Linked DNA regions of Homo sapiens. The protein of the gene in region 1 interacts with the protein of each later gene in a pairwise test. Each region holds a gene or a part of one and is shown in the gene's direction. Other genes may lie near its edges.

Region 1 (4,104 bases):
TTTTGTTGCATAAACAATACGTAGTTTTTCTGCTTACCTGACATAGCCAGACATTTTTTCAATATTAAATAATATATTGAGAGAGAGACTGAGGAGAGAGATGACAACTTGACATAAATGATATAAATGTGCCAGATTCTTGGCTGCACACTCTAATCTATAGGTACATTATTTGAGGTAGAAAGTCAAATGTTCTTCTTGCCTGTGAGAGTGGGAGGATTCTGAATTCATATAATAGCAAGGAGTTCAGTGTCACTGAAGTTATCACTGCAAATGGAAGAGTAGAGAAATAAGGGTTTTTAGGTGTCTAAACAAAGAGTTGGGATTTTTATTGTCTAGGAGATGAAGAACTATTGGTGGATTTTTGAGCAGTGATGGAACATGGTCATTTGCAAGGCAATATCACTCTTGGAACTCTGTGGAGATAAATTTGATCAGGCCAGACCTGCCTTTACAGGTCTTAATCTTATGTCAAATTTTTTTTGGGAAGATGCTCACAGGGTCACTCTGCAAAACTTTTCCAGCCAGATCCCCAATTTAAAGTTATTCCAATGAGAATATAGAGAATAGTCTAGGTCAGTTACATAAACCAGTTTGGACTTTGAAAAATGAAATGTCCTATTTTTATACATTGCTAATAAAAACAACAAGCTTATGACTGCTTCCTAAAAATTCTAGGCGACGTCTGTATTGTTTTAGTTTCTAGTACATTTATATTAACACTTTTTGTTTTAGAATAGTTCAAAGAAAGGGGCACCATTTCATTTTATGTTTTCCACCTGTAAAGTAATAAAGAACTGTCTACATTTCATACAGACTTTCATTTCATCTTTATGCGACTCCCATGAGTAGGTATTATTATCCTCATTTTAAAACTAAAGAAGCTGATTCCCAGGTTAAGCAACTTGGCTTTCATTACAGAAAGAGCTGGAATTTGAACCCAAGTCTCTCCAACATCAAAATCCTTTCTTTCTAATATATCACCCTTCTCCTTGATAGCACTTGTATAGGTGGAATGTTGTTTTTCCTCTGTACACCTTCTTTATAGAACATTTTCTTCATGTTACCTAAAGGCATGGTGCAAATTAAAAACCTGCGAATATCTGCATTAGGATAATTCAGCTTACCTAATTGTTTAGGTCATGTAGCCCCTCGTTTCCTCCATAATAATAGAATAAAGAGCCAGAGGAGTTCTGCTTTCCCATGACTTACATCACTCTGCAGACAATTGGCAGCCAGGAGACGGGCAGCTGCCGCAATCTTCAGATTTCTCTCTATTTAAAGTTCAAAGAGACGCTGGATAACAAAAGAAAGAGGTAAGCGTGGCCTGACCTAGCCACCCACCAACAGGAATAATGGCTGAAAAAGGTAAGATTTAAGGCATAGGATTCTCTTGGCAAAAAAAAAAAAAAGGCTTCTTGACTTTGGTTCATTTATGTTTCTTGGTGTTTCCCAGTCACTCTAAAAAATGTGATATCTATGCTAAATGACCATTAACCATATATGTTAGTGTGGCTGCAAAAATGCATTAATTATGTAATCTATGGATCAGGTCTATAGGTTATGAATAATTTTAAAATGATCAACAAAGGAAAAGAGCTTAATTTTGTTAATACTTATTTTGAAAGGTGAGTTAGAAATCAGTTCTCCTGATTTCAATTCTGAGCCAGAATTGAAGACAGTTAAGTTCTGTGTCAGACCTGCTAGTAAATGGCTATGTGAGTTTGCAGAAGTCCCTATACCTCTCTGAGTCTGTTTTCTGACAGTAAAATGAGAATATTGGGCTCAGGCATCTATTCCACACCTAAAATTTTTGTTCCACATCTAACTTTTTTCTGGTTTTTAAACATTTTTTTGTATTTATATTTTATAGTTATATAAAATAATTGATTCCAATTTGTCAAAAAGTTGAATATATACTGTATCTAAGAAATGGTTTTTAAATATTAAACAGGAATTTTTGCTTTGAATCTTGACAATGACCTTGTGAAATATGCATATCATCATCATCCCCATTTTATAGATAAGAAAATGGAGACACAGCAGTTTAGTAACTTGTTCATGATCGCTAAAGAGTGGTGGCACCAGGTGTTTAACCTGGACAGTCTTTTCCAGAGCACAGTGTCCTCAAGAACACTTCCAGCTGTAACTACTTTGATATGCTCAGAACTGGACAAGAGAGAAGCATTTTAGAATTACACTTCATGTTTAAGAGATGTTTTGTTCTTATTTGTGCTAGTAATGTAAGTGACATATGCAAAGTATGTTGTGCTCTTACGTATTTCTACTTCCAAACAATTCCACAGGTATTAGTAAAGTTGAAAACATTAGTGTTAAAAAAACAATGGAATGTATACTTTGGGTGTTAAAATGCACAGTTAGTGCTACTGGTACTATTTTACAAGGAAAGTAAATAATGAGATACTTTTAGGGCTTTGTGATATGTAAATTTTATTAAAATATGCATGTATAAAATATAAATGCACAATTAAAGGGTTAATATTAATTTTCAAATTCTTTGAAATTGGGAAAAATATAAAGCCACATACCTAGACAGTTCAAAAAAATTACTGCTATGTACTTCCATTGTAATGGTACCTTAATTCATAAAAAGGCTTTCGTCCAAATGAGAGTAAAGGGCAACTCATGTTGTTTGCTTTATCCTTAAGCAATACCACATGTCAAGTAAAGAGAAGAGTTTTCCATTTAGTGCTTAATGCCTTATACAAGGTCACAGTGAGATGGAGAAACAAGAAAAGCATGTTGAATTTTGTCAGTTAAGAGAGACTCTAGCATTCTTGGAAAAATTGATTTAAAGTATTAAAATTTATTTCAACTTCAGAAAGTTTGCTTTTATAAAAGTGTCTTCTAATTTTAAATGTGTCTCATCTCCTGATGATTTTATTTTAATAGCATTTTTAAAAATTTCACATTTTAAAGTGATGGAAATTGTAATAGGAGTATAATTGCTAAGAATATGCATTCTCTCTTTTAACTAATGGCATAAGATCTAATTATGCTTTGCAGTTAAGAATATATCTGAGTCCTTAACACAGGGACATTAATTCCATAGAATGTTTTTCTGCGCTCTTTCTAAATCTTTTTGTGTGATGTAGGTGTGGATTTCTGTGTGTATGCCTGTGTATGTTTGCTTGAAAGAACAAGAGTTACATGCAGTGCATACTTTAAAAAAGATACTTGTATAAATTGCTTTTTACAGGTAAGAGTACAAATAGGAGGCACAGAAGGAATCATATATAACAAACGCCATTTATGTGTGTGTTGGATTATTACTGCCCATTGATTCAGGTTCAGTGCTGGTTGTTATACTGAACAATTTTTAAACAATAGAAATTCTTTTCTGTAGTCAAGAATGGTTACATAATGTATGATACTTTCCTTTTCCCTGTGATATTTAAAATTACATTCAGCTATTGAGGCCAAGGACAGTTCTCAATACCTTTCCTTGTGTTATAATTATTTACTTTAGTGGGAATTGCCTCAGAGTTGTATTAGATTGTTTTTTATATAAATAGCTGCTGTATATGTTATTGCACAAATGCATGAATGTGTTCTGTATACACTAAACACACACGGTGGTTAGAGTTTACAAAGCTTTGCACATATGTTATGTCATTTGATGTTCAAAACTATTCCAGGAGGTAGAGAGCACAAGTTTCATTATTCATATTTTACCAGTAGGAAAGTTCAAGCCCAGAATTGCCAAAGGTCACATAACAGTAAAAGACCCATGGTTTGATTCAAAATACCCAGGGTTTATGACAGTCTCACGTATTCTCTGTAGAAAAGAAAAAATAATTATGTATGGGTATAACTAGAGAGTGTATGCTTTTTTCTTAATGTTACCAAATTCCTTTTATTCTCTTGACACAGAAAATTTAATATGAAAATGACCAATATAATCTGTTTTCTACGGTTTATTTTAAAGCGGGGTCTACATTTTCACACCTTCTGGTTCCTATTCTTCTCCTGATTGGCTGGATTGTGGGCTGCATCATAATGATTTATGTTGTCTTCTCTTAGAAAGGTAAGGGTTTTAATAATTGAATGTTTATTTATAGTCTAAATTACTCCAGAAACAAT
Region 2 (3,240 bases), on another chromosome or scaffold:
TGTTCTCCTTGGTCAGCATTCCCTTGGTCATCTATGACTGGGCCTGCTCATCGAGTAGTGACGAAGGCCACTGAAACCCGCCGAGAAAAAGAAACATCCCTGTTGTCTGCTCAGTCAAGTCCCCACACATCAGCAATCTCTCACCACTTCTTTTGCAAGTTTACAGAAGCAAACAGAAATGTACAGGATACTTAAAATGGAATAACTTTTTGGTTGCAAAACAGAGACATGGTTCTATAATGCTTCATGTCCCTCCAAGATTTGAGATCAATTTAGGGATTGTGAAATTTTTTTTTCAAATTTCATACAATCATATTTCCCAGTACTTTTCACAATCATTTTTTACCCATCTAACTCTATGTTTTGTGGCTTCCCGGTCTCTTAGAACTTTGAAAACATGATATACAATAATGTTTATTTATTATACATCCAGATTCTGAAATAATTTTCCTACTGATGTTCAGCTCACACTATCTGTACCTTTTTAGAAGAGAAAAGAATCTTGAATTGTATATATTTATTTTGCTTTACAGAAAAAAATGGTTTCGTAAATAATTTGCCTATTTTGGTTAACATAGCACATGGAGATAATCATCTGAAAGTTATAGGGCACTGCCACTGCTGAATCAGAGCATGCCCAATATTTGAGGTGGCTCTGATTTCCTGGCAGCTGAACTCGGGTAGTCCAGTGGCCTAGCTGGTACCACATCTATTCCCATCCAGAGACATTCTCTGGCAAGTGTTCTCAGCTGAAAAGTGGTTGGGGATGATTCTTACCTTGGTAATTAAATGAAGCTACACATTTGGGTAATCTAGCAAATGAAGTATTTTTTCCCTCTTGGCAACTTGTGTCAGAGTTACTCTGGTCTGAGTCAACTTTCGCTGGGGAAAACCTATGGAACCTACTGCAAAAAGATTGTCCAAAATGCCTAAGAAAATACTCCTCTGATGCATTTAGCCTTCAACCCTACCTGTCTTGCTGAAGGGAGAAAAATGTTTTAGTACATTATAGGCCCAGCAGCTTTTATTCATGTCCACCAGCTAGTTGCACAGAGAATCATGTGTACCTAACTAAGGATGATCTAGGATAAGTAACTCCTGTTTTATATTGAGTATTTTAGGGAAGTCTTTAAAAGACTTGTTTTATATCTATAAATCTAGGTTATTACAAATACAAGAATTTTGTACCTTAAATAAGCCTCATTTCTATTTCTTCTTCATTAATTCTCCATCTAGTCTTGTGAAAAAAAAAAAAAAAAAACCCTCAGAGATAGTCTTTGTGAAGAGCTTCTGACAGAATCACTGAGTACCTTCCTTCCCCCAGATGAGGAAGACAAGGGGGTCTCAGTGTCTGTGCTGTCTCCTCTTCTCTTCCCCAACCAAGGACTGTGCCATTACTGCCCGTCTCAACTGTCCATGCAGGAGGACAGAGTTGCCTGGTACTCTTACCCTTGTCCCTCTCCTAAAGGGAGCACAAGGAAACTGAAGAGACTGAAAAAGAAGAGAGTTTGTAGCTGAAAAAGAATAGGGATAGCAAGGAAACCCAGAACTGCATTCCCCTAAGTGGGGCCATCCCATGTGATTGAATTGTCCATAGCTTGCCTATGGTGAGAAATGTGCATGCTCCGTGAGCTGGTCTCTTGAAACAGGACTTATGCTTCCTCTATATTCTGGTTAAATTTTCCAAACACATAAGTTCACTGAGCACAGATTTCTTATCCAGAGACAAGTAGAATCTAACCGCAGACTGTTGGCAGAGTTTCCAGGCACTTAGCCATGTTCCCTTCCTGACTCAAATCCCCAAAGGCCTTCACTCTCACTGAGAATCACACTACTGTCCCATAGATAAGGCAGGCATTGAAGCACCTGTCGTGATCCTCTAGGGGGGAGAATGAAAGGTTATTTCCTGCATTGCATCATCATAGCTTTTAATATAATGCTACAGAATCATATCCACATTAGGTTAGAGTTCAGATATTTGGATATGAATACCTAACCTAGCCATATCCATGGCCATCTCTGTTCTTTTCAGCAATGTTTTCCATATTATATTAGCAATGACAGAAACAGAACAAGCCAAGATCCAGTCAGTTCTTGGGAGCTTGTCTAGAGCACCAAGTAATGAAATAGCCAGGTAGTGGGATGACTGTACCTTTAAAAATACATAATTTAGTTTGCAAGCTATATTATGCTACTTTCTATTTTCCTTGTTACTTTATAGCAATTCATTTTACCCTCACAAAGTCAATTTAGAACCTTATCATTAACTGGGATGTGTAGTGATATTTTTGGGCCTCTGGGTTTCATGTGTCAATACAAGGAATATTTATTTAAAATAGATTTATTTAGAGGAGGCACAGTGTTGTTGATCTGTGTGACACCACCCATATTTTTAAAAACCTTTGTATGTTTCTCTAAATTTGTTGTTGACTGAATATAATAGACCCTACCATAATTCGTCAAATATCACTGATTAGTTACATCCTTTGTGTGAGATTAGCTGTAAAGTATACTGCTCTTATTCTTATTCAGAATAGTTAATTGGTAGCCAAAAATACATGTATCACAGATGTTAGGTCGAATTTAAACAGCACAGTCAAGTGCTATGGAAGTTTTTCTGCTAAATTAGTAGATTAAAGAATACTATACCCTAGGCATGGGGAGCAGCACGTTTTCCTTTGGTAGGTAGGATCTCTATACTAGTGAACAGTGCCAGTTCCACACTTTGGACTTAGAACTGTTCTCTAGTTATTGTAACACAGAATACTGTCAATCCCTAATTTACTTAATGTTACTTATTGGAAGTGGGGCTGATGAAATACGCACAGGAGGGAAATCTACTGTGTTTAGGCACAGGCAGCCCCAGTGTATAAGGAGATCATATTCCAAAAGGTTGTCAGTTGGTTGTTTGCAACCTGGAATGTATTTTCCTTTAGAGACCAGGTTATCCATGGTGGTTAGGCCCCTAGAGCAGCTGGAAAAGATGATCAAACCAATAGGTTAGCTGACATCGAATAATGTAATAGGTTTGCTAAAGAATCTAACCATCAAATATAATATTGTTTCCAGGGAGGGTGTTTGTTCAGAGTTGCCTGTTAGTAGAATCTGGACTGTCCATCCCAGCCACATCCCACCTACTGGACAGTAGGGGTAGAGATGCCACCAGACTACAGGTGACCAGATTGGCCTGAAACATGGTGTCCAGTAAAAACGGGGAGGAATAAGTCCATGACTGCTGGA
Region 3 (3,500 bases), on another chromosome or scaffold:
GCTCCTTGTATGATGGAGGAGATACAGCTCATGTCATCATAATTGCTTTATCAATGATCATGATCAGAGTATGATCAAGGGAAATATCATTACTTAAGTACTGACAATAGATCAATATCAATTTATCTTAGAGAACGGGCTGTGTGTGTGTTGGAAGCAAGGCCCACTGGTTTGACCACCCCTCCTGTTCTTGGCCTCACTCTCTCCTTCCTCAGGATATGGCAATGTGGCTCCCAAGACCCCCGCCGGTCGCCTCTTCTGTGTTTTCTATGGTCTCTTCGGGGTGCCGCTCTGCCTGACGTGGATCAGTGCCCTGGGCAAGTTCTTCGGGGGACGTGCCAAGAGACTAGGGCAGTTCCTTACCAAGAGAGGTGTGAGTCTGGTATGTCCCCTACCCTGGGTGTTGGGCAGAGATGGGGGAACCATGACAGGTGAGGGGAGGACAGGAGGCCTCTAGGAATTGGACCAAGGGTGTAAGGACAGATGGCAAGAGGATAGTTTCAGAGCTCCTTGCCCTCCCGGGTCAGGCTGGGTACCCAGCTAGCTTCTCCTCTAGCTGCCTCCCTGGCCCTCTGGGTGCCTTTGCTGGGTTTCCAAGTCTCCACTATTCTCTGACTTGGCCTCCTGCTCCCCATCAGCGGAAGGCGCAGATCACGTGCACAGTCATCTTCATCGTGTGGGGCGTCCTAGTCCACCTGGTGATCCCACCCTTCGTATTCATGGTGACTGAGGGGTGGAACTACATCGAGGGCCTCTACTACTCCTTCATCACCATCTCCACCATCGGCTTCGGTGACTTTGTGGCCGGTGAGTCCCTGCCTCTGCCTCCCACCTCTTTTTCTGCTTCTTTGGTTTCAGTGCAACAGACCTATGTTGGGGGTGCCCTAGGTAGGGTTCCATGTTCTGGGCACTTCTCTTACCCAGTGGGATTCTCAACCCACTCTGCCATTTGCAAGAGGAAACTAAGACCCAGAGTAATGACAAAAAACTCTTTTCTCTCTGGTTCCCTTTCTCAGACATGGCCTTTTTCCTCCTCCTTTCCTCTCTGCTCAGTCTCTGATCTCCTCTCCCTCAGTTCTCCCATGACTCCTGAGCTTGGCTTCATGGGGGACTTGCAAGTAGGGCCTTCTGCCTGCACGGTTGGTACCTGCTACCCAGGGAGCCCCTGAGCCCACCAGCACCCACTCCACGCCCTCAGCAGCCTTTCATCTTTCACAAGAGTGGAGGGAGGTGTCCTGAAGGCATGGCTCAGAGGCCTGGGGCTTTGTTCCTGCTGTAGCAGCTTAAAGACAAGGGAGGCCTTCTCCCCAGCTGCCCTGCCCCCAGCCCTGACACTCCCTCCTACTCCTCCCCTGCTTAATCCAGGGAAGTGATGAGGTTCTTTGGCCCCTTTGTCTGAAGGCCTGTTACCAGCTGGCCCCAGCCACACATGTACTTGTGTTTGTGGCCTGCACAGCATCTTGGTTCTTAATCTTCTTGACACCCTGTTTGACCCTGTTGACCCACCACCCCAGTGACCTCAACTTCTGCTCCAGAGGCCTCTGTTCTGTACCCCCTCCCTTTTGCCCAGAGGGCAGTGGGAGGCCACTAGCCTTGTGCTTGATGTATGTGGCATCTGGGAGCAGTTGGCTGAGTTGGGGGAGGAACAGGAAAGAGAGGCACAAACACTCCCCTGACCCTGCCAAGTCCGGGCCTGCTGTCCTGGGCAGTACATGTGGACAAGGCACAACCCTGCCATTGTCCAGCCCTTGAGGCCCAGAGCAGGCTAAGGAGGTGCCTCTGGTATTAGGGAAATACAGATGTACACTTAGCCATACTTTCTCAGCACCAGCAAGACACCAAACCCTGCCTCAGCTTTCTCTTCTGTAAAATTAGTAAAAATAATAATTACTATTCATGAGTGTTAAGGGTAGGGCCTGGCTATATCAGTGTGTGCCCTCATTACTGTCATCATGAAACTCTGCTTGTGATTGAGAGCCTTGAGCAGGATTAACAGGACCACTCAGGGCACCTGCTATCTGAGCCCGGTCGTGGGAGGAGAACTGACCGGGCTACAGCACCTGGAGGAACCTCTAGTCTGATGAGAGAGGTAGCCCCCTTCCTCCAGGTCCCTTCTGTAAGTTGCTCTTGTATCTAGTCGAGGGGGCAAATGGAATACAGGTCAACATGCCTGTACATGTAGTCGTCAACGACATTTCAAATAATCCTGGAGTGTAGGGGGAACCTTCAGAGCTGTAGGGGGTAAGCCAAGAAGGCTCCCTGCAGCAGGAGGGGGATGTGGAGCAGACAGAGCCCTCCTCCAGGTCAAGGGAGAGCTGATCTGAGGAAGTCAGGGAGGCAGACCAGACCTTCAATGAAAATAAAAATGGTTCAGCGTTTCTTGCCACGGTGGGTGCTTCCTGGGTCATCTCAACCTAACCACCAGCCTTGTTTGTAATCCACCAGTGTGAGTCTAGCCCCAGCTTGGAGGGTGCTGGGGGCTCCCTTGTGTAATATCCATCCATTCCGTTTTTAAGTGAACTGTATCATATACGCAGAACAGCTGGGGATGGTAGAAGAATTAACAGAAAGGCAAATACTCATGAACTGTTTCTTGACCTGTGTGTCGGTTACATTGCCAGTCCCCCAAAGCCCCTTTAGCTTCCTTCAAAGAGTCACTGTCTTGACTTTTTTTTTTTTTTTTTTTTTTTTTGAGACGGAGTCTCTGTCTGCTGCCCAGGCTAGAGTGGCAGTGGTGTGATCTTGGCTCACTGCAACCTCTGCCTCCCGGGTTCAAGCAGTTCTCCTGCTTCAGCCTCCTGAGTAGCTGGCCCGCCACCATACCTGGCTAATTTTTGTATTGTTAGTGGAGCTGGGGTTTTACCATGTTGGTCAGACTGGTTTCGAACTCCTGACCTCAAGTGATCCACCTGCCTTGACCTCCCAAAGTGCTGGGATTGCAGACGTGAGCCACCATGCCTGGCCTGTCTTGACGTTTCTAGTTGAGGAAACCGAGACTCAGAGACAGGCTGGAGACTGGGATGGGGTCATGAATGATGGCAGGCCCAAGCCCTTGAGGAAGATGGGATAGTCCAGGGTCTAGAACAGGCCCCTTTCTATCCCACTGCACCCCCGTCCTGTGCTCTGGCCTGACCCCTGCTCAGATCACACAGCATTGGCCATTGCACATTTCCCGGGCCCTGCTAACTCTTCCTGACCTCTGGACTGCCTGTCCGCTCAGGTGTGAACCCCAGCGCCAACTACCACGCCCTGTACCGCTACTTCGTGGAGCTCTGGATCTACTTGGGGCTGGCCTGGCTGTCCCTTTTTGTCAACTGGAAGGTGAGCATGTTTGTGGAAGTCCACAAAGCCATTAAGAAGCGGCGGCGGCGACGGAAGGAGTCCTTTGAGAGCTCCCCACACTCCCGGAAGGCCCTGCAGGTGAAGGGGAGCACAGCCTCCAAGGACGTCAACATCTTCAGCTTTCTTTCCAAGAAGGAAGAGACCTACAACGACCTCAT
Region 4 (2,420 bases), on another chromosome or scaffold:
TTGTCAATCAAAATTATTCTGTATTGCAACTTTTCTCAGAGATTGCAAAGGATTTTTTAGGTAGAGATTATTTTTCCTTATGAAAAATGATCTGTTTTAAATGAGATAAAATAGGAGAAGTTCCTGGCTTAACCTGTTCTTACATATTAAAGAAAAGTTACTTACTGTATTTATGAAATACTCAGCTTAGGCATTTTTACTTTAACCCCTAAATTGATTTTGTAAATGCCACAAATGCATAGAATTGTTACCAACCTCCAAAGGGCTCTTTAAAATCATATTTTTTATTCATTTGAGGATGTCTTATAAAGACTGAAGGCAAAGGTCAGATTGCTTACGGGTGTTATTTTTATAAGTTGTTGAATTCCTTAATTTAAAAAAGCTCATTATTTTTTGCACACTCACAATATTCTCTCTCAGAAATCAATGGCATTTGAACCACCAAAAAGAAATAAAGGGCTGAGTGCGGTGGCTCACGCCTGTAATCCCAGCACTTTGGGGAGCCCAGGCGGGCAGATTGCTTGAACCCAGGAGTTCAAGACCAGCCTGGGCAGCATGGTGAAACCCTGTATCTACAAAAAATACAAAAATTAGCCAGGCATGGTGGTGGGTGCCTGTAGTTCCAGCTACTTGGGAGGCTGAGGTGGGAAAATGACTTGAGCCCAGGAGGAGGAGGCTGCAGTGAGCTAAGATTGCACCACTGCACTCCAACCTGGGCGACAAGAGTGAAACTGTGTCTCTCAAAAAAAAAAAAAAACAAACAAAAACAAAAACAAAACAAAACAAAACAAAACAAAACAGGTAAGGATTCCCCTGTTTTCCTCTCTTTAATTTTAAAGTTATCAGTTCCGTAAAGTCTCTGTAACCAAACATACTGAAGACAGCAACAGAAGTCACGTTCAGGGACTGGCTCACACCTGTAATCCCAGCACTTTGGGAGATGGAGGTAAAAGGATCTCTTGAGCCCAGGAGTTCAAGACCAGCTTGGGCAACATAGCAAGACTCCATCTCTTAAAAAATAAAAATAGTAACATTAGCCAGGTGTAGCAGCACACATCTGCAGCAGCTACTCAGGAGGCTGAGGTGGAAAGATCGCTTGTGCACAGAAGTTCGAGGCTGCAGTGAGCTATATGATCATGTCACTGCACTCCAGCCTGTGTGACCGAGCAAGACCCTATCTCAAAAAAATTAATTAATTAATTAATTAATTAATTTAAAAAGGAAGTCATGTTCATTTACTTTCCACTTCAGTGTGTATCGTGTAGTATTTTGGAGGTTGGAAAGTGAAACGTAGGAATCCTGAAGATTTTTTCCACTTCTAGTTTGCAGTGCTCAGTGCACAATATACATTTTGCTGAATGAATAAACAGAAATAGGGAAGTAAACCTACAAATATTTTAGGGAGAAGCTCACTTCTTCCTTTTCTCAGGAAACCAAGCAAGCAAACATATCGTTCCAATTTTAAAACCCAGTGACCAAAGCCTTTGGAACTATGAATTTGCAACTGTCATAGGTTTATGGATATTGCTGTGGAGAAGCTCAATTTTCAGTGTTTGAACTGAACCCTTTCTTGTTAGGGAACGTGTGAAAGAAGAATTGTGGGGAAAAAAAAGCAAGCATAACCAAAGATCATCAGCAGTGAAGAATCTAGGCTGTGGCTGAGAGAACCAGAGGCCTCTAAAATGGACCCGAGTCGATCTTCAGAACAGGGATCTACCATGCAGGAGCTTCTTGTGCTCACACAAATCTGTAAATGGGAACATTGTACATTGTCGAATTTAAATGATATTAATTTTCTCAAGCTATTTTTGTTACTATTTTCCTAAAATTGAATATTTGCAGGGAGCACTTATACTTTTTCCTAATGTCTGTATAACAAATTTCTATGCAAGTACATGAATAAATTATGCTCACAGCTCAGTTTTGTATAATGTGCCATTTATAGCCATCATGTATATGAACAATCACAGGCATAAGTAGGTATCGCTTATGTTGCACGTGCTAGAATCCTTATTCCTTTCTTACACTTGGTAATAGCACCAGATGTATAGTTGAGTAAACCCTTTTCAATTTCAGATTGGCAGGCCCATCCCCTTGGGTATCCTCTCAACTATCCATTATTCTTTCAACTCCTGGATGAGAATGAATAACTGAGGACAGTTGTTCAGGACATGCTCCTAACACTTTGAGATCAATATCCCAAGAGCCACTTCTATGCATTCCCAGACAGGCCCTGGGCACCACCATCAGGGCTGACCCTGGGCCACAGCATGCCTCAGGGGTCAGCTCTCTAGGACCAGCCACTTGTCAGAATGTTATCCCCTGAGGCTGAAGCCACAGCCATGCTTGTCTCTTCCACAGAAGCACTTCTCTTCCACACCCTTTCACCACAGTTGGCAGATTTGAAAGAAAATATGGTA
Region 5 (3,500 bases), on another chromosome or scaffold:
AGAGAGGGGATGGGACTTACCCAAGGACACACAACAGTTCAGCAGCAGAACTGGGACTGGAACCCAGCCCTCCTGACTCCCTTCTAGGGCCCTTTACTTTAACCCAGGAGACCTGGCCACATTCGGGACCAAGACTGTTTTGGGCCCCAGGTTTCTCAACCTCTCAGTCTTTCAAGCGGCTTCATAGAGTTGAGCTCCTCCCCAGCCTGGACAGGTGGTGCAGCCTCCCCTGCCAATGTTTTATTCTCCCTTCCTCTGGATTGAGCCCTCGCTGCCATGGCCACCCCTCCTGGGAGCTCTTGCTCCTGAGAAAGAAAACAGGCCGTTTGTTTGGAAGAAACAAGCCACCTGTTTGGTTTCCCAATACCAGGCCACACAGCCCTGTCCCTCCCAGACAGCCCCAAGATGCTGACCAGAGATAGCCCTCTGAGGGTCTCTGCTGAGCTCCCCTGACCCTCGACTCCTCCCCTCAGCTCCCGTCTCAAGACTGCTGGTTGGTCCTCACCTTCTGTCTGTGGTGTTTACTTGGGCGGAGCAACCTAAAGTCTCCACATTCTCTCTTGCCCTGGATTTATCAGACTTAGCAGCCCTTAAACCTGAATGCGTAGCTTCAGATCTTAGAATATCGGGGCCAGAGGGATCTTAGCCATCAGAAAATCCACTCTGCTTATTTGACAACTGGGGAGACCAAGACCCAGGGAAGAGGAGATTTGCCTGAGATCACAGCCAGGACCAGAACCCGAGGTTCCAGAGTTTGTCTTGAATGATTTTGAGGATGATTCTTGAAAAACAAAACAGGGCACCCTCCCCCTCCAAGATCCCCTTTCTGTCTGCACTTCACACTACCAGGTGTTTTTGTGGCATCCGTGGTGACATGGTCAGGAGGAGTAAGGGCCAAGGGTCCTGAAAGATGAGGTGTGCACATTGAGGAGTGTGTCTGCGCATTTCCAGGTCCTGTCTGTTCAAACTGGCATTAACACCACGGCATGAGCTAGTGAGTGCATTTATCTGGCACTCCCTTAGCCAGACTTGATAATGTGTCTTTGGATGGCAGGCTTTTAAAGTTGTCTTCGTCCACAGATTACAAAAGAAGTAGGTGCTCCTTGTAAAAACGAGCAGATGACATCGTGAAGGCTGGCGACCACTGTTAATATGGTGGCGTTTTATTCAGGTTTTTGTTTGCTGAGCTGTTTCATGTCCTGGTTTGTTGTTGTTGCTTTTGAAAAAATAGAGACAAGGTCTCTGTGTGTTGCCCAGGTTAGTCTTGAACTCCTGGGCTCAAGTGATCCTCCCACCTCAGCCTCCCAAAGTGCTGGGATTCCAGGCAAGAGCCACTATGCCCAGCCCGTATCCTGGTTTTTCAACTCGTCATTACAGTGCCTGTTATCTTCATGAGATAATGTGAGTGACTTCACGCAGGATCTAACCTGTAGGTCTCACGTGCTTCCACCCCTTGATGGCTAGCAGGTATTCCCTTGGCCAAAACCCTGTGACGCTGTGCAAAGTGCAAAGACGTTTCCAATTCACCACTGTGGGAGTCCAGAGGGCCGTTTTTCTGCATCACCATGGGGTTTGGGAAAGCAATTCTCTCTGAACTCTTAGAAATGGAAGCCACGGGCCATCTGGGTGTGATGCGTGTGACCCAAATTCATACAGAGGGAGGGAGACAGCTTTGTTTCTTCTGACTTTTATGTGTTTATTTTTGCTGTGTTTGTTTTAACCCATCCAAGTGCCGCCACCCCACCATCACTGCCCCTTGCCCCAAATCTCCCTGGGATTAGGCATGGGGTTAGGCAAGTTGCAGGTCTCTAGAAAAATCGGTATTTGGCATGCTCATCTCCAAACCCTGGCTCTTGCAGAGTAGGCGTTTCAATAGCAAAGATGTGCAGAGAATTTGTTTCCTAATCGGTGATTCAGGTAGGACACCCCATTCTGGGAACAGGATGGGGCGGGGTCTCTGTCTCTCTCTACCAGGATCACAGCTTTGTTAATGCCATAAATCATCAGTACTGGAAGTACTCGTATCTTGGGGATTTTCTAAGCTCATGTTCACAGAATGGACAGCCACTTACTAGTGGATTTGAGCATCGTTGAGTGGTTTTCCGCTGGATTTTTAAAAGTGAAGTAGAAGACAGTGGACTAGAAAATAGCATGCATTTCCTGTCACGAGAAATATTCCTTAGTAAAACTTTCAGTTATCTGTTTGTGGATGTGCACTGAGTCACTAGGTAAAAACGTCTCTCCTCCTGCATGGTAAGAACCTTGCGCAATGTAGCTCCGGTTATACTGTGATCCTGGGAAACCTTGGATGGGTCCTAGAAGCAACTCAGGGGTTTGCAGGGACAGAGCTGAGTGGTGGAGGCAGGGCCGACAGGAAGGAAGCTCGGCTTATGCTAAGGATACAAAACATCCACTTTTAAAACTCTGTGACTTTAAAAATAAAACAGAAAGTTGGAAGCCATTGTTCGTCTAGCCTCCTCAATTCCTAGAAGAAACTGAGGCCACAAAACAGAGGCTGGGGCCTTTGCTGCAGGGGAGGTAGCACTCAGGCCTCACATTGAGGAGAATCTGCAGATGTAGACCCTTGACCCCTCCACAAATGAGCGACTCAAAACACACGTTCACGGTGCAGCCTGTGACCCCCATAGGCCTCACTGTTGCGTGCACTAGGAATTCATGTTTATCCTAAAGCCTGTCGCTCTCGTGCCAACAACCCAATTTATATTGCTGAGATGCACAAAGCATTAATTTTTTCAATGCCACATTTCAAACAAAGAAGAGTTAATAACCCTGTTCTGGCATTTCTTTTTTTGTTTTGTTTTGTTTTTTGAGACAGAGTCTCGCTCTGTTGCCAGGCTGGACTGCAGTGGTGCAATCTTGGCTCACAGCAACCTCCACCTCCCAGGTTCAAGCGATTCTCCTACCTCAGCCTCCCTAGTAGCTGGGACTACAGGCATGCGCCACCACACCCAGCTAATTTTTGTATTTTTAGTAGCGATGGGATTTCACCATGTTGGCCAGGATGGTCTCGATCTCTTGACCTCGTGATCCGCCTGCCTCGGCCTAGGCATGAACCACCACACCTAGCCTTCTTCTTTTTTTAATGTCCCCAGAGCTTTACCAATGGAAGCTTCCCAGGCCCATCCCCTGGCCTGAGAGGCCTTTGAGATGATAAGCCCAGGGTCACCAAATCCTGGCAGAACCTGGCAGAATGAGAACTCACCACAGGGAGCAAGTTCTTTTTTTTAAGATCGTGGACTCACATGATGTGCAGTTCTGGATGTCTCCAGGAGGTTTTGCTATTTCCTCAACAGGTAAAATTAGGTGGCTCTAAATCTTGGGCAATTTTATGTCTTTTCCATGTTTTTCTCCTCACATGTGGTCTAGGGAGGGGTGTAGAGAAGCAGGTGGAATTTACTTGCCTTACCTTATCCTACCTTTTCCTGGAACCCACAGGTTGGGCCTGTGCTGGTTAGGGTGTGGGGCATGATTTGTTGATA
Region 6 (3,500 bases), on another chromosome or scaffold:
GTCCCAGCTATTCAGGAAGCTCCATTGCAATCTAGCCCGGGTGACAAAAAAAAAAAAAAAAAAAAAAAAACCAATTCATTTGTTCTTCTTTAACATATATGTGTACCTATATGCATATATATACGTAAGTATTAGATTCATTTAAACTTACGTATTTTTCATCTGCCACATTTTTCTAAATACAAATCAGAAACAATGACAGAGCTAGTCTTTTATATTGCCTTAACTAATGAATAGTTGTAGGACCCCATCTGTGGAACTAAGATTGGTGGTAAGCTTAATTTTTTTCTTTCTTTATTTTCTTACTGGTCTCTTGATGTCAGGTTGTGCATCTTTGTGACTGTTACTATTTGGAGAATTTCCAGTAATGAATCCCTAATAGTGGTTTCATCTAGTTTCTCAATTAGCCCCTGTTTTTCTTCCCCAGGGACAAAAGTGGCTCTCAATCCAGCACATGCACATTGAAGCAAGTTAAAGGATTTAATATGAAGCACAGAAGCAGATAGTGCCAAATAGCAAGCAGTAGTTGTTACACATTTGTGAGTAAAAATGGTCCCTTTTGGCTTACTTTCTTAGTCTTTAAATCGTCTGCATGCCAAATCCTTAAAGATCTATGTCCCCAGAGATTTTTTGATAAAGAATAAAAGATGTGAGTTAGCAGTCATAGTCAAACCAGTTGCTGGGGCTGAGCGTCCTGAGCAACCTCTAAGAGCTCTCCTAGGCATCTCAGTGAGGCGGGGGCTTAGGGTGGGGCTATATCTCCAGCATGGAGTTTAGGAAATACCTTAGCCATGGTAAAGTCATGTATACTGTCTTTAACTTTTTATGTCTTTAATTTATATATAGTGTCTTTGCTGAAAATTTAGTGTAATTTCCATTTGAAGTTTACCCTAAATTTTGAAGTTTATTTTTATTTAAAGAAACCATTAGACGTCAAATATGTAGGCTGCCTCAGTTACATTTACTTTTTACCCTTTGTATTCCCTTCATGATTTATTCATTTGGGCTTAGTCTTAAAAAAGGATTTTTCCCCTTTGGAGTATAATGATTAGAGGAGTTTTATGGCAGTATTGTTTTCTTCGAATCTGACTTCACATTTGTATATACATTTGATACAGCTTCTCTGTATCCTGTTTGCAAAATCATAAGACAGTGACTGTGCTTACAACTGTCTTTATGATTTTTGAGGTATAGAAAAACTCTTCTTAGGATAGATTTAACAATTGGTTTCTCAAATCAAGCCCTAAGCCATGTTCAAATCCAAAAGTCATTTTACGTAGATATTTACTTTTATTCATAGTTTTCTTATGAAATGAATTGTTGAAATACTGATTTTTATTCTTTCTTTTTTACAGCTGGAAAAGCAGTGTCCGTGTTGTTATGTACACCTCCAAAAAAAGTTCAAATGTGTAGGGGAATTGTTGTGTAAAGTAAACTGAACTGCAGGGTAGCAGTATTTTAATAGCTATTATAGACCTGTATTTACTGTATTTAAATGAGTAAAGGAACAAGCAGTGACACATCACTAGGAAGGTCAGTGAAATTTTATTCAGTTGAGCTGGTATTATAGGTTTGAGAGACAATGGCTTTAAAGCTTACTGCCGTAGGCTAACCATGCTCTTTTACATTTTTATCAGCTTTTGTATTGGCGGCAACATTCTTTCTACTGCATTAAAAAAAAAAACACATGTAAATATGATATTAAATACAGATTAATAGTGTAAAACTTTCAGTCCCTCCAAAAATGAATACAAACATGAGGATTTATTATTACAAATTCTAAATTTGGTATTCATTGCATCTCAGTCATTAGGAGAAGTTTTAGTTTGTATGATGTGATTTTCAGGGAGTTGCATCTTCTTTTTTAGTAAATTCAGAGTTAATGTTATGCATCTGTCATTTAAAGGTTTTGAATAACAGATGCATTTGTCATTTAAAGGTTTTATTTTTTCATGCATGACAGTAATTTTTAATTTTATATTTTTAAAGTCCAAGCAGCTTTCCCTCAAATTGATGAGGAAATTTTAAGTTTAAATTTTATTGCAGGCATTTTTTTAGTTACAAGCAGCATGCATGTTTACGCAGAGAGTATGTGTGTATGTGTGTGTACACATTTGTGTTGTAATTCTATAATAATTTAAAAAATTTGCTCCTAAGCAATATCCTCAAGGTACAATTTCAGCTGATAATTAAGAAGGCATTTTGTTGAGGAAGACATTTTCTTTCATCTTTTATTTTTGCTTTGTATGTGTTCAGTACTTGCAAATGAGAAGTTTCCTTTCGCTCTTTCTATAAGGTATTGTCTTCTAACTTCACTGCGTAGAGGAGACTGACATTTTAACAGTCAGCCCTGTCTTTAAATTTTTCTCCCACAGGGTGAGCAGGGCAGCATTTCCTTCTCCCACTGCTGCTGAGATGGCAGAAATTAGTCGAATTCAGTACGAAATGGAATATACTGAAGGCATTAGTCAGCGAATGAGGGTCCCAGAAAAGTTAAAAGTAGCACCGCCAAACGCTGACCTGGAACAAGGATTCCAAGAAGGAGTTCCAAATGCTAGTGTGATAATGCAAGTTCCGGAGAGGATTGTTGTAGCAGGTATTTCACCTTTACTTAGAAGGTTGCCTGTTAAATCTTTGTTTTATATGTTTCTATGAAAACTTTTGAGTTTTTCTAAATGTTATTTAGAAAAGGAGTTGGAAAATGCAACTTTATACTTTTGAAATTTCTATTCATTATTATAGTCTGAATTGCAAACAGTATTTTTTAGTAATTCAACTAATTATTGAGGTTTTACACACATAAAATGTATACATTTTTAAGTGTGTACTTGATGAGTTTTGACAAAAGTGAACACCCATATAACCACCACCACAGTCCAAATAGAGACCATTTTTGTTACTCTGCAAGGTTCCTTTGTGCCTCTTTCTCACTCAGTCCCTACCCCTCAACTCTAGGCAACCATGATCTCCTTTCTATAGCCAGAGAATAGATTTGTCTTTCCTAGAGTTTCATGTAAATGGAATCATAGAGTATATACTCTTATCTGTCTTCTTTTGTTCAGTGTAATGTTTTTGAGATTCTTCTGTTGTTGCATATATCAGTTGTTCATTCAGTTTTATTGCTGGGTAATATTTCAGTTTGGATACACCATAATTTGTTTTTCCTTCATCTTCATTCGTTGATTGCTTTTTGTTTGAAGCTGTTAGGATTAAAGCCACTGTGAATATTCAGGTTCAAGTCTTTGTGAGGACATATGGTTTCATATCTTTAGGAGTGAAATTGCTGGATTATATACAAGTTATTTTCAACTTTGAAAAACTGCTAAACTGTTTTCCAAATTCTTGTACTATGTTGCATTCCATCAGTGATGAATAAGTTACAGTTGCTCCACATCCTTGCCAACATTTTGTATTGTCAGTCTTTTTAATTTTAGCTGTTTGAGTGGGCGTGTAGTGCCATCTTGCGATGTTAATTCTATTTCCCTGATTATTAATAATTT
Region 7 (3,500 bases), on another chromosome or scaffold:
CTTGGATAAGTTTGGGTGAGAAGTTGGATGAATCAAATTATATTTGGAGGCCTGTGTAAAAATATTCATAGCAGCTTTAACATTTTTTGGGGGGCTAACTTAAGCAATATCCTATTGGAATAATAAATTCAAAGTATTAAATAAAGCTAAAGAACCATCTTTTAAAATGAGATATAATTCACATACTATAAGATTTACCTTTTTAAAGTGTATAATTCACTAGTTTTAGCATATTCACAAAGTCACACGACCGTCACCACTGTCTAATTCCAGGGCATTTTCATGACCCTAGAAAGAAACATACCTATTCAGCAGTCACTTCCCATTTCCCTTTCTCCCCAGGCCCTGATATCCACTAAAGCTAGTTTATGATTGATTGCCTATTCTGGACATTTCATGTAAATAGAATCATACAACATTTGTCCTTTTGTGTCTAGCTTCTTTTATTTAGCATAATGTTTTCAACGTTCATTCATGTTATTGCACATGTTAAGCACATCATTCTTTTCTCTGACTGAATAATTTTCATTGTATGGATAAACCACATTTTGTTTACCATTTATCAGTTGATGAACATGTGGATTTTCCCCACTTTTTGGCTATTATAAATAATGCTGCTAGGAACATTTGTTTACAGGTTTTTGTATGAACACATGTTTTCAATTCTTTTGGGTATTTACACTTAGGAGTGAAATTGCTGGGTCATGTTGTAACATGATGTTTAACATTTTGAGGAACTGCAAAATTAATTTCCAAAGGGGCTGCATCATTTTGTATTCTCGCCAGCAATACACAAGGGTTCCAGTTTCTCCACATCCTTCTCCCCCAGGCTGGAGTGCAATGGCACGATCTCGGCTCACTGCAACCTCTGCCTCCCGGGTTCAAGCAATTCTCCTGCCTCAGCCTCCCAAGTAGCTGGGATTACAGGTGCCTGCCACCATCCCCGGCTAATTTTTGTATTTTTAGTAGATTCAGGGTTTCACCATATTGGCCAGGCTAGTCTTGAACTCTTGACCTCAGGTGATCCACCTGCCTCGGCCTCCCAAAGTGCTGGGATTACAGGCGTGAGCCACCGTGCCTGGCCGGCTATTTTTTTTTTTTTTTTTTTTTTTTGGTAGTGGATATAAAGTGCTGTTTTATTGTGGTTTTCATTTTCATTCCCTTTGTTGCTGATAACACCGACCATCTTTTCATGTGTTTATGGGCCATTTGTAAGTCTTAGAGTGATATCTATTCAAATTCTCTACTCATTTTTAAATTATCTATCTTTTTTTGAGTTGCAAGAGTTTTCTATATATTTAGATACAAGTCTCTTATCAGATATGTGATATGAAAATTTTTGTGTCCTATTATGTGGATTGTCTTTTCACTTTCTTGATGGTGTCCTTTGAAGCACAAACATTTTTAATTTTTAAATTTTGTTGACATGTCATTGTTCTGTTTTTCTCTCTTGTTGCTTGTGCTTTTGTTGTTATATCTAAGCAACTACTTCCTAATCCAGTGTCACAAAAATTTACACCTATATTTTCTTATAAGAAAAACATTAATTACAGAATTATTATGTTTTCTTGTAAGAAAACTTTTATAAGAGTTTTATAGTTTTAACTCTTACATTTGGGGATTTAGTCTATTGTGAGTTAATTTTGTATATGATATGAGGTAGGGGTCCGATTTGATTCTTTTGCATGTGGATATCCAGTTTCCCCAACACCCTTCTTTGAAAAGATTTTTTTTCTCATTGAATTTTCTTGGCATTCTTTAAAAAATCCATTGACCATAGTATAGCAACTCAATTTATAATGGCCTCAAATTAAAAGCAGTCCAATGTTTGCCAAGAAAAATATATAAATTGTGGTATATCCATACAATAGGATACTACACAACAATAGTAATTAACAAATGTTGCTACACAAAACATAATGGATAACTATCACAGACATTATAGTTATCAAGAGAAACCAGAAACAGAAGAGCGCATCTTGTATGATTCAAATTTATGTGAATTTCAAGGACAGGTATAACTAATTGTAGTGATAGAAGCCAGTGCTGTAATTATCTGGGGAGGAGTCGATATTGACTGGGAAGGGGCGTGAGGGAGCCTGCTGGGGTAATAGAAAAGTTCTGTGTATTTATTTGGGTGGTGTTTACATGGGCATGTACACAGTAAAAATTTATTAATTTATTTAATCTTTATGCTCCTTACTATGTATATGTTGTACTGCAATCAGAAACAGACAAAAAATCCCAGCATGTTACCCACATGAATTTTTAGAGCACTTCCACATTACCTCATCTGTGTAACTTCTGAGTTACACAGATCAGATATTCTCTGGGCAAGTTGGGAAGTTGGAGGAAGTATTTCAGGGTGTAGCTGACAAACAGTACAACTGAGTGGGTGATGCGCTTTAGCAGAATCAGAACCTCATCATGTGTTATACTCCATGGGATTGAGACAAGAGGCATCTGCCACTTCCCTTCCTCTCCCCAACCCTCAGTAATGTAAAGAGAACACAACCCCATGTCAGAGTTGGGGTGAAAAAAATGTTCTTGAGCAGCCATAACCTTAGGTTGTGGAGGTGAGAGGGACTGTTCTGTGGAAAATCATGTGCTATTTCATAAAGTCCATAATAACATCCTCACTTATTTGCAAATCTGATTTTATTTCTTTTTCACTTCCATTTCAAAGGCAATTGTCTCGGAAAAGTTTCCAAACGTTTGTTGACCAAGTTAATCCTATACAGAAATGCCTTGATGAAAAAAATCCAGCAAACACTTAGAACAATGTTTCTTTTAGCCAAGGTGGCTTAGGCACTGAGGGTATCTTGGAGAATCTTTTCCTTAAGCATCAGGTCACTGGTGGTTGCGATTAATGAGGAGGAAACTGCTATAGTGGCATCCATCTTAAACATGGCCTTCATGCTCCAGCTGAAATGGTCAATGAAGAAGCTTGGGTGCCTTTCCTTTTTCTTCCCCACACATCCCAAAAATGACAAATGTGCACTCCTTTTACTATAAACCTCACTCTTCTGAAGAGGAAAGAAGAAAGGGAACCTGCTAATTACCAAACGTCTCATATGTATCAAGCCCTATACTTGGTCCCTTAATATGTATTATTGCATTTAATTTTCTAAATTACTGTGCAGTATATTATTTAAACATCCATTTTGCAGATGAAAAAACTGATGCTGACAAAGGTAAAACTATTTGTTTGAGGATGCAGAATTAAAATTAAAACTCAAGTCTACATGTCCCTAACTAAGAGCTTTGCTCTTTTTTTGATGGATGTGAGGTTACTACTATTGTTTGGAAAGTCATTATCTTAAAGAGAAATGATCTATGTTGCTAGATTCATATGCATAGTTAACCATAGTCCAGGGAATGTAGCATGTTGATAAGCTAACAAATAGTAAGCACTGTTGAGGTACACACTCTGTGCCAGGTGCAGGGCTAGGCACTGGGCATGCAGTGGTCTCTACTCTTGGGAACTTTATAGGTCTGTA

What was found.
Region 2: the proteins of STRIT1 (region 1) and SLC38A1 interact in binary tests that used the Homo sapiens proteins (3 or more experiments, as listed by UniProt).
Region 3: the proteins of STRIT1 (region 1) and KCNK5 interact in binary tests that used the Homo sapiens proteins (3 or more experiments, as listed by UniProt).
Region 4: the proteins of STRIT1 (region 1) and SLC14A1 interact in binary tests that used the Homo sapiens proteins (3 or more experiments, as listed by UniProt).
Region 5: the proteins of STRIT1 (region 1) and TMEM51 interact in binary tests that used the Homo sapiens proteins (3 or more experiments, as listed by UniProt).
Region 6: the proteins of STRIT1 (region 1) and MFF interact in binary tests that used the Homo sapiens proteins (3 or more experiments, as listed by UniProt).
Region 7: the proteins of STRIT1 (region 1) and EDA2R interact in binary tests that used the Homo sapiens proteins (3 or more experiments, as listed by UniProt).

What each region holds. Positions count from the first base shown.
Region 1 is NC_000003.12:155,290,884-155,294,987, reverse strand, and holds the start of STRIT1 (sarcoplasmic/endoplasmic reticulum calcium ATPase regulator DWORF), read left to right. Parts: upstream 1-1,304; 5' UTR 1,305-1,355; coding exon 1,356-1,368; intron 1,369-3,949; coding exon 3,950-4,044; 3' UTR 4,045-4,048; intron 4,049-4,104.
Region 2 is NC_000012.12:46,185,804-46,189,043, reverse strand, and holds part of SLC38A1 (sodium-coupled neutral amino acid symporter 1), read left to right. Parts: coding exon 1-74; 3' UTR 75-3,240. UniProt on the Homo sapiens protein: Symporter that cotransports short-chain neutral amino acids and sodium ions from the extraccellular to the intracellular side of the cell membrane. The transport is elctrogenic, pH dependent and driven by the Na(+) electrochemical gradient.
Region 3 is NC_000006.12:39,191,476-39,194,975, reverse strand, and holds part of KCNK5 (potassium channel subfamily K member 5), read left to right. Parts: intron 1-215; coding exon 216-382; intron 383-638; coding exon 639-807; intron 808-3,220; coding exon 3,221-3,500. UniProt on the Homo sapiens protein: K(+) channel that conducts voltage-dependent outward rectifying currents upon membrane depolarization. Voltage sensing is coupled to K(+) electrochemical gradient in an 'ion flux gating' mode where outward but not inward ion flow opens the gate.
Region 4 is NC_000018.10:45,750,601-45,753,020, forward strand, and holds the end of SLC14A1 (urea transporter 1), read left to right. Parts: 3' UTR 1-1,577; coding exon of another isoform or gene 1,578-1,622; 3' UTR 1,623-1,920; downstream 1,921-2,420. UniProt on the Homo sapiens protein: Mediates the transport of urea driven by a concentration gradient across the cell membrane of erythrocytes.
Region 5 is NC_000001.11:15,156,747-15,160,246, forward strand, and holds part of TMEM51 (transmembrane protein 51), read left to right. Parts: intron 1-3,500.
Region 6 is NC_000002.12:227,328,251-227,331,750, forward strand, and holds part of MFF (mitochondrial fission factor), read left to right. Parts: intron 1-427; 5' UTR 428-539; intron 540-1,355; exon of another isoform or gene 1,356-1,495; coding exon of another isoform or gene 1,496-1,533; intron 1,534-2,375; coding exon of another isoform or gene 2,376-2,415; coding exon 2,416-2,596; intron 2,597-3,500. UniProt on the Homo sapiens protein: Plays a role in mitochondrial and peroxisomal fission. Promotes the recruitment and association of the fission mediator dynamin-related protein 1 (DNM1L) to the mitochondrial surface.
Region 7 is NC_000023.11:66,618,579-66,622,078, reverse strand, and holds part of EDA2R (tumor necrosis factor receptor superfamily member 27), read left to right. Parts: intron 1-3,500. UniProt on the Homo sapiens protein: Receptor for EDA isoform A2, but not for EDA isoform A1. Mediates the activation of the NF-kappa-B and JNK pathways. Activation seems to be mediated by binding to TRAF3 and TRAF6.